Homo sapiens: one gene and its partners. The protein of the gene in region 1 purifies or fractionates together with the protein of each later gene. This does not show direct contact. Each region holds a gene or a part of one and is shown in the gene's direction. Other genes may lie near its edges.

Evidence for each region.
Region 2: the proteins of SLC6A2 (region 1) and APMAP purify together in Homo sapiens (affinity purification with mass spectrometry; one large-scale study listed by BioGRID and IntAct). This does not show direct contact.
Region 3: the proteins of SLC6A2 (region 1) and UBTD1 purify together in Homo sapiens (affinity purification with mass spectrometry; one large-scale study listed by BioGRID and IntAct). This does not show direct contact.
Region 4: the proteins of SLC6A2 (region 1) and NUP210 purify together in Homo sapiens (affinity purification with mass spectrometry; one large-scale study listed by BioGRID and IntAct). This does not show direct contact.
Region 5: the proteins of SLC6A2 (region 1) and NUDT4 purify together in Homo sapiens (affinity purification with mass spectrometry, with the first as the bait; one large-scale study listed by BioGRID). This does not show direct contact.

The regions. Positions count from the first base shown.
Region 1 is NC_000016.10:55,654,694-55,658,787, forward strand, and holds the start of SLC6A2 (sodium-dependent noradrenaline transporter), read left to right. Parts: upstream 1-1,294; 5' UTR 1,295-1,476; intron 1,477-1,560; exon of another isoform or gene 1,561-1,659; intron 1,660-1,746; exon of another isoform or gene 1,747-1,950; 5' UTR 1,951-2,001; coding exon 2,002-2,275; intron 2,276-4,094. UniProt on the Homo sapiens protein: Mediates sodium- and chloride-dependent transport of norepinephrine (also known as noradrenaline), the primary signaling neurotransmitter in the autonomic sympathetic nervous system.
Region 2 is NC_000020.11:24,989,938-24,994,107, reverse strand, and holds the start of APMAP (adipocyte plasma membrane-associated protein), read left to right. Parts: upstream 1-1,356; 5' UTR 1,357-1,419; coding exon 1,420-1,514; intron 1,515-4,170. UniProt on the Homo sapiens protein: Exhibits strong arylesterase activity with beta-naphthyl acetate and phenyl acetate. May play a role in adipocyte differentiation.
Region 3 is NC_000010.11:97,501,915-97,505,433, forward strand, and holds part of UBTD1 (ubiquitin domain-containing protein 1), read left to right. Parts: intron 1-3,519. UniProt on the Homo sapiens protein: May be involved in the regulation of cellular senescence through a positive feedback loop with TP53. Is a TP53 downstream target gene that increases the stability of TP53 protein by promoting the ubiquitination and degradation of MDM2.
Region 4 is NC_000003.12:13,319,318-13,322,836, reverse strand, and holds part of NUP210 (nuclear pore membrane glycoprotein 210 precursor), read left to right. Parts: intron 1-497; coding exon 498-644; intron 645-1,001; coding exon 1,002-1,252; intron 1,253-2,857; coding exon 2,858-3,074; intron 3,075-3,511; coding exon 3,512-3,519. UniProt on the Homo sapiens protein: Nucleoporin essential for nuclear pore assembly and fusion, nuclear pore spacing, as well as structural integrity.
Region 5 is NC_000012.12:93,401,919-93,405,298, forward strand, and holds part of NUDT4 (diphosphoinositol polyphosphate phosphohydrolase 2), read left to right. Parts: 3' UTR 1-3,380. UniProt on the Homo sapiens protein: Cleaves a beta-phosphate from the diphosphate groups in PP-InsP5 (diphosphoinositol pentakisphosphate), PP-InsP4 and [PP]2-InsP4 (bisdiphosphoinositol tetrakisphosphate), suggesting that it may play a role in signal transduction.

The DNA.
Region 1 (4,094 bases):
ACAACTCAGGCAGAGAAAACAGCAAGTGTAAAGGTCTTGGGGTGGGTTTGAGCTTAGGATGTTTACAGAATGGAAAGGTCAGTGTGGCTGGGCTGATCCAAGCCCCACCCAACCCACTTAGCACGGCCACCTCTCTGAAGCCTCCTTGGATCAACAGGATGCTTCCCTTGCTGATTCAGCTCCACCCTACTTCCACACATCTGTGGTCACAACACATCCTGACCACACTGGGTTGTGATAGACTCTATACACTGGTCTGGGAGCTCCTTGAAGGCAGGGGCTATCTCCTCTCTAGCCAGCACTGTTCACGCACACAGCAGATGATCAGCATCTGCTAAAGGGATTAATACATTAATCAATAGATGAGTGAATGAATGAGAAAACGACTCTCAGGTCCAAATGGCTCACTCCTTTACTTGTCTAATTGTTACCTTCTCAAATTCCCTGACCCCGTATGCAAACTGCAGCCCCACTGTCCCCCCATTCCCTCACCCATCATATAACGTGTGTATTTATTATGTTTCCCGTTTCCTCTGTCTCCGCCAGCAGAATGTAAACTCCATGAGGTCAGGAATCTCCGAGTTATGTTGCGCCAGTGTAATCCAAGAGCCCGGAACAGTGCCTGGCACACAGCGGGCATATGGAAGAACAAATGTGTGAAGGTGTGAATGAATGAATAATTGAAAGAATAAATAGTAGTTCTCAGCCTCACAGAACACGGGTCACAACCTCAAATGACCTGCTACCCTGCCCATAAATAACAGAGATGCAGGAGTAAGTGCTGGGCTGTGACCTGTCAACATGCTAAGCCGCTCAAACAAAACTGCCCAACAGCCCGCTGGCCGCCTATTTGCAGCACTGGGCCCTGAGCCGCACATTCCCATTTCGTTGATAAAGAAACTGACCAGATAGTTTAAGTGGCCTGCTGCGGAAGACAGAGCTGGTGCTGCACCGGTCGCTGCTTCCCCAGTCCTTTTTTGGCCTCCTTTCTGACGCGACGCAGACCCCAGTTCTGGAGAGTCTGTCACTCGCTCCCCGTGGTGGGAGATCAGAGGCCTGGTGTCCTTGGGAGCGGCGAGCGGTGCTCGGCGCAGGATAGAAAGGGAGTGCGCGCCCGAGTCCCCCAGATCCCTGGGAACCCGCGCCACCCTCCCGCCCCTGCCCATCCCCGGCCGCGCTGTCAGTCTCCATTAGCGCTAACAGGCTCCAGACGGAGCGGGCCGGGCGCTGGGTTAATGCAATCGGCGCGTTACCTGGGGCGCAGGCTACATTACCAGCCCGGCCCCCGCCAGGCACGGCCAGAACCAGTCAGCCCGCGCCCTGCCGGCCGCCCCGCGCCTCCAGCTCTTCCCCGGCCCCGCCCGAACGCCACACGGCGGAGCCCAGCCCCAGCCCGCGCCCTAGAGCCTGCCAAGGCGCCGCCGGTCGGGGGCCGGCAGGGCGCAAGGCACCAGGGATCCCCTCGCCGCCGGACACGTGAGTGCGCCCTGAGCGCGGGACAGGGCTAGGTCTGCCTGGGAGGCCCGGGCCGAGACGCGCCAGCAGAGGGCTAGCGAGTTTGTAGTGCAGTGACGTTAAGTGTCCGAGAAGGCTCCTGTGGCTGTTGAAGTGTCGCGGACCTGAGCTGGGGAGGGGGTCGGCACGCTGCCCTCAGCCTCGGTGAGTTCAATCCCAGCCATTTGGGGCAGGCGAGAGTGGGTGAACGAGGAAAAGTGCTGCAGGGTCTTCAGCCGCCCCCAGAGGGCTGTCAGAAGTCTCCAACTCTTGAGTTCCGGCGTGCCCCAACCTCTGTTTCCAAATTTTTCCAGCGGACGCGCGCCCTTTTCTGGGAACCCTGCGTCCGCTCAGCGCGCGCTCATCCCAGTGTCTAAGGCGCTCCCGGGTGGTCTTGGGAGTTGCAAGTAGGGAGGAACGGCCGGGTAACCACCTCTTTTCCCTTTATCCAAGCAGAGCCTCGGCGTGCCCCCAGGACCGGTAAAGTTCCTCTCGCCAGCCGCATCCATGCTTCTGGCGCGGATGAACCCGCAGGTGCAGCCCGAGAACAACGGGGCGGACACGGGTCCAGAGCAGCCCCTTCGGGCGCGCAAAACTGCGGAGCTGCTGGTGGTGAAGGAGCGCAACGGCGTCCAGTGCCTGCTGGCGCCCCGCGACGGCGACGCGCAGCCCCGGGAGACCTGGGGCAAGAAGATCGACTTCCTGCTGTCCGTAGTCGGCTTCGCAGTGGACCTGGCCAACGTGTGGCGCTTCCCCTACCTCTGCTACAAGAACGGCGGCGGTGAGCGTGGGGTCGGGCTGGGAATTTGAATCTGGGAGGTCCACTGTCTGCAGCGGTGGCTGGGACAGGAGCTGGAATACACACGGAAGGGAGGCGAGGAGACAGGGGCAAATCTGGGGCGCAGAAAGAACTGGACAGGGCTAACGGGAAAAAAAAAGATTGGAGTCCTCTGGAAGGTCATTTTCCCAGGCTCTTTGCAGAGTACCTCGAGCTCATTCCAGCGGAAGTGTCAGGATTGGGCACCCTGGAAGCAAAACAGCAGAAGAGTGAAATCGAGTCATGACCCTAAAGTCATGGTAGGGGTATGGATGGAAAGGACAGAATCTGGGGTGCCAGGTTGGGTGGGGGAGCCTGACCTTTTGATGGTCTGCTGGAAGGGAGGTGGAGATTCCAAGAGCTCTTGAAGGGGCACCAGAAGTGGGTGGGATTTGACAACCAGGCCCACAGTGACCCTAAATCTAGCACTCTGAGCCTGGGGGCAGGAACCTTTGGGCCAGAAGCAGTGGGAATACTTCGGTTTTCTGAAGGCACCTGGGGAGGCCCTGTGGTCTTGGGGATAGAAACACACAAGAAGAAGCCAGTATCAGAAATAATGCCATTCTCAGGGAGCACAGCCCAGGTGGAATCAGGCCAGTAGGTGCCAAGAACTGGCCTGGTCCTCAAGGCAGGAGGCCCAGATGATTGGGGTGAAACCTCTACCTCCTCAAGTTCTAGCCGCATTGCAGGGAGGAGTGGGAGAGGGGCCTGAAGAAGACTCCAGTGGAACAGCCACACTCTCTCCCCCTTCTGCTGGATGGTCCAACTGGCCACCTGCCTGAAAATGAGAGCCTAGAGATCACCTACAGCCAATCCAGGAAGAATAACATAGAACCCCGGGCCAGGGAAGCGGTCTGGAAGTCAGGGTGCTGGCCCCCACCCCCTAGCTCCTTCCTGAGGGGCTTTGCTCCTGCCACTTTTGCTGGGATGAGCTCAGAGGTACCCTGCAAAGAGTGTGGGAAAATAGACCTTTTGAGGAAGAAATTGGAGAAGGGGGACCCAGCTCTGAAAGCCTCTCTCTCTCCACTGGGCTGCATTGCTTGGCGGTAGCTGTGACTCTGGACTTAAGGGAGGTCAGAGGGAGGAAGGGCAAGAATTTGGAGCTGGGTAGAGGGAAAGCTCATGACCTGTTCACAGGCTCTAGGACTTACAACTCTGCTTCTATGTGTACTCTGGACACTTGCTTTGGGACGGGCAATACTTGGTGTTTGCAAAAAAGGAGTGGGGCCGGGCATGGTGGCTCATGCCTATAATCCTAGCACTTTGGAAGGACAAAGTGGGCAGATTGCCTGAGCTCAGGAGTTCGAGACCAGCCTGGGCAACATGGTGAGACCTCGTCTCTACTAAAAATACAAAAACTTAGCTGGGCGTAGTGGTGCACGCCTGTAATCCCAGCTACGCAGGAGGCTGAGGCAGGAGAATCACTTGAACCCGGGATGTGGAGGTTGCAGTGAGCCAAGATCACGCCACTGCACTCCAGCCTGGACCATGGGTGACAGAGCAAGACTCTGTCTCAAAAAAAAAAGGAGTGGGATCACCATAGAGCACAGGTGGCTCTGAGCAGAGGATCTTGAGTAAGAAAGCAGTTAGCTCTTCCAACGAGAAAGTTAACCCAAGGTTGGAGCTGACAGATGGAGGTTTGCGTCCATGGTCTCCCTGACACCTCCTGAGATGGGTCTGTCATTGTCAGATACTCTGAGACCAGATAGCTGGAACAGCAGTCCTGAGCTTCAGGGGCATCTGAGGTCTGGGGCCTGATCCGTGGGGAAACAACTTGTGACTC
Region 2 (4,170 bases), on another chromosome or scaffold:
ATCCTGAATGTCTGAAATGGGGGGTGGGGAGCAAGAGGGATAGTCCAGACAGGCAGGAAGGCGTGAGATCATACAGTACTTTGTTAACACTATCCCTGATTTAATAGCTGTATTGGCTATTCTCAATGACACAGAATGAAGTAAAATGTTGTCGAGGCCTGAATTATTACCTGGGATCTCTGGAGAACTGGATTTGCACAGCTCTCCACTTCCCTCAAGCTGGTTCTTCCGCTCTTTGAATGAATAAATAAAAAGCATTCACATGGAATTCTAGTGCCATCTAGCATTTAAAAAGGTAAAAGCCTCCAAGAGGAAATTATTTCTTAACACTGCATTTTGAACATGGCTTTTCCAGAGATAATTCCTCGTGCCACTGGTAACGGGCTTTGATTTCTTCTGCCTGTCACTTCCTCCAGATTCGATTCCTCTTTGAATCTCAAATGCTCTCACAAGATTCAGCTCTTCCCTTTTGAAGCAATTATTACGTTTGATAATTTTACGTCTATTTTATGATGATGATCTGATTAAAGTCATCTTTCCCACTAGTTTAATTTCTATAAGGAGGGGCCTTGTCTGTGATTTGCCCACCATCGTCTCCCAGCACCTGGGAACATTTCTGGTTTCCTGCAATACTGTTGAAAGAACAATGCCTCTCTATGCTTTCTTAAACTTTGTTAGTGATAATTTCTACTTCTACCTGGACTTTACTTAAGGGTAATCCTTAATAAACTTTATCAAAACTTAATAAACTTTATCAAAACTTAATAAACTTTATCAAATGTCTGTTGTAATCGTCACAAAAAGATTTAATACTCAACATCTGGCCTTAACCAGAGGGAAACATTTTCTAGCCCAAGTTTTCCCCTTAACCGGCTGAGTCGGGGAAGGATGTAATTTTCAGGCAGAGGTGACTTCGTTCCAAGGGTGTGAATGCATTATTTTTGACGCTGCCTGTAAGAGCAGGGTCGCTGACACTGAATAAACAGCGCTATCCTCTCCAACGATAAAAGTGGCCAACATCTCGTGCTAGCAATTCCCAAGTGCGTCATGAGCATCCCCGTCCTCAGAAACGTGAGACGAAGGCGGCATGCGCAGGCACTGGGCTAGACGAGCCCGAGGTTGAACCACTCGCGTTCTGGGCCCCGGAGTCCGAGACAGGCGGGGACCCCGGCAGCTCCCGGTGCTATCTCTGAGCGGGTTCCGAGCCCCACTTCCGGGCGGTCAGAATTAGCCTCAGAGCGCCGAGCAACGACGCGCCGGGGACCTCCCGCCCATGAGGCCGGAAGGGGCGGGGAGAACGCTGCGGAATGGTCCCTGGGCGCAACGTCATTTCCGCGTACGGGGGAGGGCGGGCCTGGAGTCTGAGCCGGCGCCGCTCAGTGTGAGGTGGTTTCTGCGGGTGAGGCTGGCGCCCGTACCATGAGCGAGGCGGACGGGCTGCGACAGCGCCGGCCCCTGCGGCCGCAGGTCGTCACAGACGATGATGGCCAGGCCCCGGAGGCTAAGGACGGCAGGTAGGGCGGACTCCCAGACTGGGCGCTGGAGCCGGGCCGCTAGGAGTGGAGGGCGACCCTCTTGGACAGCGGCGACGGCAGTAACAGTAACCTGGGGATGCGGTGCCGAGCGCGTTGTCAGAGTCCTCTCGTTTCATCCCCAAGAAAAACTCATTTTTCCGAGGAAGCAGGCTCCGACAAGGCGGATGTACCTGCCAGGTCTTTCAGGTTCGGGTGCACCCTGCGCCCAGTCGCCGCGTTGTCCTCGGCTCTCCGGACCCGAGACCGCCTCGCGCCGCTCCTTTGCCTTCCCTCCCTCACTCCTGCCCCACCCTGCATAGCGGTTGCTTCCTCGCCTTTCCCTCGCTCCCCTCGCGCTGTCCTTCCTTTGGCTTAAATGATCCCCCTGAGCACAGCTACTTGGCCGGGGCCCTGCGTGTTCCTGGTTCCCCGCTCGCAATTTCCCGAAGGGAGGAGGTCCCACGAGATGCTGGGGTCCTGCCTCGTTATCCGGCGAAGAGATGGCTTCTACACTTGCTCTTCTGCACCTGCCCCCCTCACGCTGCGTGACCAGTCCTCACCGCGGTTCTTGGAAAGAGTGGAGAACAGTAGTGACATTGTAGGCAATTTTTGTGAGAATTCAGCCTGGCAGTTTTTCCTGATAGGGATGGAGAAACATAGGAAACTGTAGTTGTTGACACCTAAGAAATATCAGGTTTTGCCCTTTGCCTCCTCTCCCATCTTTCAGAATATAAGAATGCTGTGTTTTGTTAGCTAAAAACTGAATCATGATTCGTAAGCATAGATTTCAATATAAGATACTTAAAATTCACTTTTCAATTCTGTGTCCTGAATTTCATAACTTTTAAGTTTCAGGGAGAATCAAGAGGCCCCATAGACCAAGCTTGAAGTTGTGGGACTGATTGACTTATATTTGATAGAAATACTGGAAATATTTGTTCATCAGTAGTGTGCCAAGAGGTGGTGGGGTACATATGAATGAGAGGCAGTTTTTGCCCCTGTAGACTGAGTTTATTGACTGATGATAAGAGGAACACATTTGAAGGAGAGCGATGGCAGGAAGGAGCATTTAGGCTCTAGAGAGGCAATTTAGAGAGAAGACTTTGCGGTGATAGTTGACTCCTTGGGCCAGTGAAAAGATCGGGAAGATGCTCCCATATATCCTGACCAACCATCCTGCGTTGCCCTGGACTGGGGTTTCCAAGGATGTAGAACTTTCAGTGCTAAACCTGGGCAAACTGGGACAATCTGATCACCCTACTTACTGTGAATATTGTGAATTAATCATCTGTTGATGATTGAGGAGCCATTTAGAATGGACATGCAAGAATTGGCAACACTTTCCTACAGAAATCTTGAAAACAAGGCATTTTTACCTGAGAAATGGAAGAGCAGTGGCCTGAGTTTGTCATTAGGTGCAGTGTGTTGAAAACCAGGGCCTACAGCCCCTGAGGGCACCGGTTAGGTAGTCCCAACTCTCAAGTTGGCTGGCTCACACTTCTGGCCCCAGGGCAAGCAGGCAGACTTAATTGTTTTTTTCAGGTTCTCTGTGGGGATTTCTTCCTTAATGAGTAAGTAAATCTGATTCTAAAGTCATCTTTTACTGCCTGATCTTTTCCAGTGTGCCTTTTACATTTATGTTTACTTATTTCCTTGACTTCCCTGTCCATGAACATTGTTCCTGTTTCCCTGTGTTTGTCCTTCTTGTTTGTTTATCCCTTTTCTGTATATCTGTAATGATCTCTTTCAAAGTGAGGTCTTGTCACCACCCTTCCTTTCCGCAATTATTATTGTAACATGGTAGCTGTTTTTCTTATTTTTCTTCTGCATTTCTCCTATATTTTTCATTTATTTTGTGGTCATTTCTAGTAGTTCATGTAATAGTATTCTTGATTACCTTAAAAGTCGAGGGTTCAACATAAGCCAGGAAAGCCTGTGTATAGTGGGCGAAGTAAAGGAATCTAAATTCAGAAGTAAAAACACGAAACTATTAGAATAAACTTTAGCACTTTAGATGTGCTAAATAGAATAAAGGAAGCCTTGAAAGACATATTACTAAACTGACAGAACTAAGACATAGATTTTAGCAGTGGTAGGGACCCCTAGTAATACGTTGGGTGGTCTCCCAACTCTTGGCACAAAAGGTGGGTGTTTGCTTTGTTTTGCTGATGAGATCATTGAGGTCTATGTGTGTGAGGTGGTTTATATGAAGTTACAGAGAATAGAGTCAAAAGAGAAATGAAAATGAATGAAGAAGGATAGAACTGGCAGCTGGACAATGACTGAGAAGTGTATTTTTAAAATTATGCTTTGGAAATAAGACTTTATGCCAAAGCTCTTGAATTACTGTATTTGAAATATAATGGAGAATTTGGTTGGTAAATTCTTTTATTCAGTGTGGAACATAGATGAGCTAAGTACTTTAACATACCGGTGCAAGCTTATAATTATTATTTGACATTGATTTCCCGAAATGCTTTAGAAACTTAATTGTACTCTGTGGAACTATTCCTTTCTGTTTGAAACACAGTTCTATCTAGGAAGAGAACTGTTTAATGTCCATATGTGACTGTTTAGGGATGCAGAATAAATACATTGAGGATTTAATATGTTTCAATACATTAAATTCTGTATAATTCTCCTTTTTCAATAAACT
Region 3 (3,519 bases), on another chromosome or scaffold:
CCTGCAGACACATTATCTATGCCACTTACTTAACAATTATGTACTCTGTATTATTAATCATGTCTTTGATGTTTACAGTCTTTTATCAGCAACTACATTGCAAGCCTTGAAGACCTGGGTTCTGTCTTATCCTTGTAGTATATGTCTCTCTCACGCACACACACACATTCAGCACTTAACACAATGAGTTGTACAGAAGTAGCACTCAGTATTTGTTGATTTTAGAAAGCAAACTCAACTTCATCCTACCATCTGCATTTTTCATATATCTGCATTTTTTTTTTTACCTGCTAGTTTATCATTGCTTTAGTTCTGTGGGTCCTACTATGAATAGCTTTATTCATAAAGTCCAAAGCCGAGGGGAACTCTGTAGGATGACAAATTTGGTACAAGGGAAGGAATCCTTCTTAACTCCACAGTGCACCTGGCATTCCTGTAACATCTGTGGCTTTTCCTTTGACAAGGACATAGTTTTACGTTGTAAGACTAATGCCTAAAACTCCCCCAGCGCCACTGTAACTCTTACCTTCCTTTGGCACTAATGTAATGGGAAGAAAGCCTCAACAGGGAGCTAGGACCTGAGTTCTAGTCCTGGGCCTATAACTCAGTGACCCTGGGCAAGTCATCTAACCTTTCTGGGTCACACTTTCAATATTTCAGAAAGGGGGAGGGTTATACAAGATCATTAGAGCTGTTTTATCATCTTCACAAAGGCAGCTGTTTAAAGCGAGAAAGTTATTGAGGTGAAATCTTTATGGCTTGTAATGTCACCCTTTGTCCTTAGTTCTGCCTTCTTAGTCACTTGGTAGACAAAGCAGAGACACAATACTGTCTGGTCAGGGATTCTTGCATTAGGGAGAAGGGAGAGGTCCTCTCGTCTCATCAAGTTTTGTGATTGTCACTCATATGTGTGTGTGTGCGTATGTGTGTATACATATATACGTATATATACGTATATATGTATATATATACGTATATATATGTGTGTATATATGTATATATATATTTTTTTTTTTTTGAGAGAGAGGGTCTTGTTCTCTCGCTCAGGCTGGAGTATGGTGGTGCAGTTATAGCTCCCTGCAGCCTTTAACTCCTGAGCTCAAGTGATCCTCTCCCCTCAGTCTTCCCAGTAGCTAGGGCTAGAGGTGTGCACCACCACGCCCAGCTAACTTTTTATTTTTTGTAGAGATGGGGTCTTGCTATGTTGCCCAGGCTGGTCTGAAACTCCTGGCCTCAAGTAATCTTCTTATCTTGGCTTCCGAAAGTGCTGGGATTACTGGCGTGAGCCGCCACACCCAGCCTTAAAAATTTTTTTTGGATTGTTACTCTTAATGCATCCCCAGTAGGTCTGTGTTCTTCTCCTTCAGATGCTGGGTGGTTCTTGTATGCTTCGGAGAATACTTGGGGATTTACTCCTTTGGTGGGGGCTCTTGCCACCCCATACATGTACACTAGGTAGATAAATATCTCTGCCCATGAACTGGGTGAAGCAGCCTCTCCCCCAGCCACTCCAGGGAGAGGTAGAGGTGGTAGAACAGGCAAGTCTCTTGCCCAGCTCCACCCTTTGAGAATGTGGCAGGGCTGAAACCCAAATATCTGACTCTGTGATGTGCCAGGCATATCCACTTACGTTCTGGAATCTCAAGCTCGGGGTGGACAGACCCAGGGCCCTGTTTGGGGCTGGTTGGGCTTGGCACTGTGGTTGCAAGAGAGTCTGCTTCTTGTGTGGGCTGTGTGGCTATTCTTGAGGGAGTAATTGGGCAACTTCTCCATTTGCTCAGTAAGTATGTACTGAGTGCCAAGCACCCTGCTGGCTGTGAACAGACGTGGTCCTTGGCCACATGGAGCTTACAGTCTTGTAGGGGGCAGACAGTAAACACATAGTCATGCAAATTACACATGATCATACATAGAATTATGTAGTATTATATATGCTGGTGACTCCTCCCACATTTATAATTTCAGCCCATTCTCTGCAACTTCAGCCTTGGATATTCTGCTGCCTGCTCACCACACCTGCTGTCTAAAAGGCTTCCTAGTTTAACGTGTCCAAAACAGAATGAACCCCCATCCCATCCCTGTACCTCCCAAAGTCTTTCCCATCCCAGTTCATGATGATTTCATCCTTCCGCTTGCCAAGGCCCCTAAAATTCTCGTCGTCCCTGACTTCTCCCTTTCTCTCACACTTCACATCCATTTAATCAATAAATCCTGTTGGTTTTGCCTTAAATATGTCCCGAACCTGACTCTGACCATCTCCACCACTTTCACCCTGGTCTGAGCTACCACTGGCCTGTGAACTCACCTTCCTGCTTCCTCCCTTGTCTCCCGACAGACTATTTCCATCCCACTAGCCAGCGTGATACTCTAAACTGTAAGTCAGATTTCATTACTCCTTTGCTCAAGCCTCCTGTGACACTGCATCTCATTCAAGACTTCTTGTGTTGGTCTACAAGATATGATATGATTTTCACCTGCTCACCTTTCTTAAGCCATCTCATGCTCTCCATCACCTTGTTCAACCCCCCGATATCTGAATGGGTCCCTCTCTCTCCTTGTCCCAGTCTCCTATTTAAGGAATCAAACCCTCCCAGGCCATTTCATTTAAAATTATCCCCTTCCCTCTATCACCTGCTCTCGGCATTATGTACCTCCCTTTCCTGTTTTATTTTGTTCCATTGCTTATGTCATCCTCTGATATTGGTTGTCTCCCCTTGCTCCATGTTGTCAGAGATTTTTATTTGTTCACTCTGTGATACCAAGAGCAGTGCCTGGTAAATAGTTGTTGGATAAAACTAGAGTTGGTGAAGTCTATAGAAAAGCATAAGTGAACACGTCTGATTGATCTCCTACCTTAGATGGGTGTTAAGGCAGGTATCTTAATGAAGGGACTTAAACTGCAACCTCAGAGTGGTGTTCTATCTCTGGGACTGGCTTCTCTCTTGCCCCAGGCTTGCGTAAGTTCTTAGATACCTGGGATATATATGACTCCTGTGGTTTGGGTGCCTCTTGCTGGGAGATACCAGGGCTGAAGCAGGAGGGCAAAGTGAAGCTCACTATTGGGGTCCTAACCAGGCAGTAGCACCTTCTTGCCATTTTATGTGTGCACCTATGTCAGAGTGGACCCCCCTCTTCCAGGCACACGTGATGTTTGTAGTCCTTAACTCGCAGGGCAGGGATAGGGTGGCCTAATAGACTACAAGGGAGGAAGTTAGGTGATGTGGATTCCAGGCATCTCTTACCCATCAACTTGCTGGAGAATTTTTAGAATCATAGAATTTTAGAGCTGAAAAGGAACCTAAAGATTTCTATAACCTCTTTTTTCTTACCCAGCCATTAGAAAGAGAACAAAGGTATGTCTGTCCCCTGCCTAGTTCACAGAAACATGGTGCAACCTACATAAAAACTGCATGTGCTCCTTTAAGTTGTGAGTGTGTGGAGGTCAAGATATTATAGGGAAGTGGTTGAGGTCAAGTGTATTCAAAGGAGAGGAGGTCTAGTCTCTGCCACTTTCTTGAG
Region 4 (3,519 bases), on another chromosome or scaffold:
ACTGGCAGAGTGAAGCACCGCCCTTCTCGTCCTGATTAACGAGGCAGCTCTGTTCCATCATGGCAGCCTCTGCTCCTTCCTCAGCGCAAGTGGACAGCACTGTGCCGTTGCCTAAATGCTGCTCAGATGTTAGTGGAGAACTAGTGCCCTCTGAATGTGCAGAAGTAAATTGCCGTTTCCCCTGCTGACAGGGACAGAAGACAGGCATTAGTGGGCCTAGCCCGTCTGCCGTGCCCCTGGATGCAAGGTCTGGAACAAATGCTGAAATTCTGACTTGAAGCTCCCTGTGATGCCGATGGCATCCTCTTCCATATGATATGTCCTTGGCTTTACCAATCCTGGCTGCATCTCAAAGCTTTGAGCCGCCCTGGGGCCCTGCTGGAAGACATGCAGGGGCAGGTGGCATTTGCAGCCCAGCCAGCCTGTGCAGGCCTGGTGGAATTTGGTGTGGTGGCCATCGGGCCTGGCCCACACCCTCTCGTCTCTCCCCTCTCTAGGCGAGTGCACCCCCACCCAGAGGGAAGTCATCCAGGCCTTGCACCCAGAGACCCTCATCAGCTGCCAGTCCCAGTTCAAGCCGGCCGTCTTTGATTTCCCATCTCAAGATGTGTTCACCGTGGAGCCACAGTTTGACACTGCTCTCGGTAATTGCGAGGATTTGAAAGTGAAAGGGACTTGGAGACAGTCTCTGTCTTCTGGGCATCTTGCGGCTTCCACGTGCCCAGCTCACCATGGCCGTCTGTCCAGAGGGCAGAGATTGTCAGGAGCCCAGCCTGGGGATTGACGCCAGGGGGACTTGGGAGGACTGCTGGTCACAGAGGGTATCCTAGCTTGGCCAAGGCCTTTATAGGGGATTCCCAGGAGGACTCCTGGAGGAGGTGACTTCTCACCTGGGCTTTGGAGGATGCATAGGAATCCCCTGGTTAGAGAAGCAGGGAGAAGAAATGACATCAGTGCACGGGCAGGAGAGGGGACAAGACAATACACCCTTGTCTTCGCAGGCCAGTACTTCTGCTCAATCACAATGCACAGGCTGACGGACAAGCAGCGGAAGCACCTGAGCATGAAGAAGACAGCTCTGGTGGTCAGTGCCTCCCTCTCCAGCAGCCACTTCTCCACAGAGCAGGTGGGGGCCGAGGTGCCCTTCAGCCCAGGTCTCTTCGCCGACCAGGCTGAAATCCTTTTGAGCAACCACTACACCAGTTCCGAGATCAGGGTCTTTGGTGCCCCGGAGGTTCTGGAGAACTTGGAGGTGAGTGGCATCTGCATGCCTCAGGCCAGGCCGGAGTCAGGGGCATCAGGAAGGCCCTGGAGGAAGAGGGAATGTGGTGTGGATGTCCTGGGCCAGCTCTCTTTAAAATTTATTTTTACAATTAGAATTTTTAAATTGAAGTACTCTTTTCTTTTTCCATAGCACTGTTGCTGTCTCTCAGGCTGCGTGATTGTATTAATTGTTCTGACCGCTGCTGGTCTTCCCCAGCTACAAGTTAAGCTTGTGGGGGCAGCAGTGAGAACCCCAGAAAAGGTGCCAGTGAGCGTGTGGTGCGTGGCATCGCAGAATTCAGTGCAGGAGCATCTGCCACAGAGCAGGGAGGAAAGCCCTAATCCCTGCTGGGACAAGTCCCCTCTCTCCAGGCCTCACTTCCCCCATGACTAAGTCACGGGGTGGGATTGGTGGGTGAATGATCCCTCAGGCCCAGAGCCTGGCAGGCTGGGAAGAGTTCGGGGGTGAGAGAACCAAGGAGTTCCTCGGCATTTCCGCCTGCTCCTCCTGCCTTGCTGCAGCCAGCGTGATCGCATGTTCTGCAGAGGCAGGGAATGCTCAGCATCGCTGATGAGGGAGGAGGGCCAGCCCGCTGGCGGCGTGAGCAGAGCTCGGGCTGCTACCTTGGAGAGCTGGTGCTTGGTGATACTTCATGTTGGTTTAGCCTTTTTTTTTTTTTTTGAGATGGAGTCTTGCTCTGTCGCCCAGGCTGGAGTGCAGTGGCGCAATCTGGGCTCACTGCAAGTTCTACCTCCCAGGTTCATGCCATTCTCCTACCTCAGCCTCCCAAGTAGCTGGGACTATAGGTGCCTGCCACCACACCTGGCTAATTTTTTTTTAGTAGAGACGGGGTTTCACCATGTTAGCCAGGATGGTCTCGATCTCCTGACCTTGTGATCTGCCCACTTTGGCCTCCCAAAGTTTTTTTTTTTTTTTTTTTGAGACGGAGTCTCGCTCTGTCGCCCAGGTTGGAGTGCAGTGGCACTATCTTGGCTCACTGCAATCTCCACCTCCCGGGTTCATGCCATTCTCCCACCCTTGCCTCCTGAGTAGCTGGGACTACAGGCGCCTGCCACCACATCCGGCTAATTTTTTGTTTTTTTAATAGAGACAGGGTCTCACCGTGTTAGCCAGGCTGGTCTCGATCTCCTGACCTCATGATCTGCCCGCCTCAGCCTCCCAAAGTGTTGAGATTACAGGCGTGAGCAACCGCGCCCAGCCTGGTTTAGCCTTTTTGTAAGCAGCAGTTGATTAGAATTAAATGAGCTTGAATTTGATTCTGACATTCATATTGATTTGTCCTTCCCTCAAAAAACACCCTGAGTATGGACAGGGCTTCCCGACTCTGCAGAGTACACGCCGTCCATGAGCAGTGCCCAGGTGTCATTACCTGCCCATGAGATGTGACCTGGGCAGGGGTCCCCACCTGTACCCTTGGGCCCCAGGAGGGAAGCCCAGCATGTCAGGCTGAAGCGGGGGTGCTTCCAGAGATGGCCATGCAGAGCAGCCCTCCCGCCTCGGGGTCCTGAGGCCCCGCTCAGTGGTCCCCCCACTCTGCAGAATGTGCACCCCCAGCTCTGATGTCTCTTCCAGGTGAAATCCGGGTCCCCGGCCGTGCTGGCATTCGCAAAGGAGAAGTCTTTTGGGTGGCCCAGCTTCATCACATACACGGTCGGCGTCTTGGACCCCGCGGCTGGCAGCCAAGGGCCTCTGTCCACTACCCTGACCTTCTCCAGCCCCGTGACCAACCAAGCCATTGCCATCCCAGTGACAGTGGCTTTTGTGGTGGATCGCCGTGGGCCCGGTCCTTGTGAGTCACGGAACGACATCATCTGGGACAGACCAGGATGGGGAGGGACAGGCAGGAGTGGTCCTGGCTATCAGTAGAAACCTGAGGTGTAAGAAATGGAGGAGTCAGAAATGCAGAATGTCCCTCAAAGTGATCGCTGCTCATTGGGGCCATGATGCAGGCTTTAGTTGCCCAGCTTTCCCATCTGTTCTCAACATGGCAGCCACAGGGGCTGTGCCCCTCTGCTCAGCAGCCTGCGCCAGGAGAAGAAGTGCCAGGGTACCAAGAACAGCTGTGGGCCCGGGCCTCCAGCAGGTGGCCTGGCCCTCTGAGACCACCATCCTTACATCTAAGAGGGACCTGTGGACTGCCCTGTAGACGTACAGTAGGGCAGGAACGTGATGGGATGCCACAGTGGGCCTGGTGGTTTTGGTAACTCATCTTCCCATTGATGGCAGATGGAGCC
Region 5 (3,380 bases), on another chromosome or scaffold:
GTGATTTTTTTTTTTTTTTTTTGGTGGGGTAGTTGAATAAAATTGGGCAGCTAAATTTTTCAGTTCCATGTGCCTCCCAAATAAAAAACAGAAAATAAGTAGTTTTTGTGAATTGACTTGCAGACAAAGTAGAAACTGTGCTGCATGATGTTATTTTGTAAACAGATGACATTTTCTGACCAGGCACATGCCATCCAATTTTCTGTCAATCACACTGTTGTATAAAGCAGCAGAACTGAAGGGGAAAAATGATTGTTGTATACACTGAATTGCTTTGCATGGTCTCATTTGAGATAATTGATGTAAGAATCCTGACTTTTTTATATTTGGAAACATCAAATAAAAATGGAAAAAATGATCATGGCTTTAAAAAAAAAACAAAAACACACACACATGAACTCAGATTTGCAAACCAGGTTTCTGAAACTTTGGGTAAGGTGTATGCTTTTAACTTTGAAATGTATAAACACCCAGCGGAAACGTATACCTTTCAGTGCATAGTGCATTGTGTGCTTACCCTGGGTTGTTTAAACTTGTGTTCAAATATTCCCCCTCCAAGTGAAAGCCTGTCGGGAATTCCACAGTAACACCTTTACTGTTCTCCCATTGATGATCATATACGTTACCTCTTCCTAGCGGTACATTTGTATGATCCTTACTACTGGAATTACCGGGTTAAAAGGAAATGCTTACCACTAAGATGTCAGTATTCTCCTCATGGATATTTTCAGTCTCAATGTTGCCAGTCTAATAGTATAGTATGTGGTTGCTTTACTGCTGTTCTCCCCACCCCCGTGGAGTTGTGTCATTATTTTAATGAATGTGAGCTCTTGACTTACTCTAGAATTCTAATACAGATACTTTCTGCACTAGTATCACTTTTATTATTGCAGTTCCATTTAAAAGCATAACTGGCTAAGTCACCGCCCCACCCGCCGCATTACATTTCCTAAAACATACTGCTGCCAAAGACCAACTGTAGAATCCTTAAGTCCTGTTCAAGTGTCACTTCATTTTTTATTAGGGGTTTCTTAGTTGGAGGGCATGAGAAACTTGGCCCTTTCCAATGTTGTCTTCACATTGGAGTATAAGAATTCTCTATAGGACTCTTTAATTTTTTTTTTTTTTTGGTAGAGATGGGGTCTTGCTGTGTTGCCCAGGCTGGTCTCAAACTCCTAGGCTTAAGCAGTCCTCCAGCCTCAGCCTTCTCAAAGTGCTAGGATGATTGGCATGAGCCACCTCGTCTGGCCTGCAGGTCTTTTTAAGCATTTGCTGTTCAATAATAAGCATCTTCTTTATGCCTAGTATTTGTGATAAGAGCACAAAACAATTTTCTAATCTCAAAGAGCTTATATTCTAGTGGGGTAGAGATAAGTGATTTATCTTGGTGTAGTTTTGGCTTTTTTGTTTGTTTTTTTGAGACAGCATCTCACACTGTCGCCCAGGCTGGAGTGCAGTGGTGCAATCTCAGCTTACTGTAACCTCCGCCTGCCAGGTTCAAGCGATTCTCCTGCCTCATCCTCCCGAGGAGCTGGGATCACAGGCGCCTGCCACCACGCCCGGCTAATTTTTTTGTATTTTTAGTAGAGACGGGGTTTCACCATATTGGCCAGGCTGGTCTCAAACTCCTGACCTCGTGATCCGCCTGCCTCGGCCTCCCTAAGTGCTGGGATTATGGGCGTGAACCACCGCACCTGGCCTATCTTGGTGTTTTTACATCCTTCAGTATTTTTCAAGGTTTTACAGCTTTTTTATCTATAGACTTATACCATCTTCAAAAGCAATACAATTTTATTTGTAGACGTGATTTCCCCCACCAAATGCACATTTTATGGAGCTCTAGGACAAAAGTCAGGATGAAAAGTAATCTATCGCTGGTGCTACTTTAATACCTTCCTGACTGGTGCCACTGGCTAAATTCTAGCAGTACGATGAGAGGGCCATTAAGGCCTATCTTAGCAAGCAAGACATTATAGCAAAGACCTAAACACTCAAAGGTTCAACGTCTTCTAGCCAGGGAACTATTCTCTAATTCTTCCACCTTGATATGATTTCAGCAAATTCTGATAACCCGGTATTACTCTTAATGCATTTTTGTAACATTTGACAAACATCTCCCAATATGTAGACTCCCACTCTCCTGATGCTAATCAGTATCAGACAATGGAAGTAAATTTTCCTGCTTTTCTCAACTTTTCCTCAAATTCATGTTAGTGAAGTACTTTCATTTGGCCATCATTATTTATCAACCTTAAGAAACATGCCTATTGACGAAGTAAATATACTAGGAATTCAACGTATCTACGGGAATGTGGACAAAGACATATACCAAGACAAGGCACTAGAGTGAAAAGCCATTAAAATAAAATGCTCAGCAGCAAAGGATTTGTAATGGTTAACTTGCAATATATCCATATGGTGTAATATTACAGTCATTAGAAATGACATTTGCGTAAGGATCTGAGTGGAAACTGATACAGCCTGTCGGAGAGCTACTGAGTAGTATTTTATCACAGCTGCATACATACCCTTTCACCCAACAGTTCCACTCCTGGGAGTCTAGTCAACAAATGGACAAGTTGCACAACCAAGCTATGGTCAAATATGTGTGTTGTAGGATTTATGAAACTGGTACCAATTTAATATTCAAATGTGATTAAGTCATGGCAATCTATTTACTGGATACTTTGTGGTTACCAAAGAGCTATGTGCTGCCACAGGGAGTCCTTTCAATAGTGATTGAAAAAGGCAGAACACTACTAGACAGAACTACCTGTTTTATGCATGTATTGGCATACACTGAAAAAGCTTAGTCACTTAAAATGAGGTTGTACAGATTGTAGATTTTGTTTTTAAACGCCTGTATGGTTTAAAAAATGTTTTGGGAAATAGACATGAGCAGGGCAGAGAACTACAACCTACAGGCCAAACCCCACCCCACTGCCTGTTTGTACGGCCAACAAGTTTAAAATTTTTTTAATGTTTTAGGTTTTTTTTTTTTTAAAAAAAATACTATGCCCATTTGTTTACAAATCGTCTGTGGGTGCTTTCTCACTACAATGGCAGAATTCAGTAGTTGAGACAGACCTATGGTCCACAAAGGCCGAAATATTTACTGTTTTAGGAGAAAAAAACAACATGAATTGTAATAACTTGGACTTACTTGGTTGCTCAGTCCTGATGTGTCCTGTTAAAACCTAAGAGAAACAGCACCAAGTTCAATCTAGTGCAATCAGCCTATCACATCTAAGCTGCTTTTGCCAGATCTGATATCTACTCCCGACCTTAAGCCAGGAGACTTTGTAAACTTACTAGGTTATAATAAAACTTAAGAACTATCGATATTTACTAATCTACATCATGGAACTATTTCAAAAGCA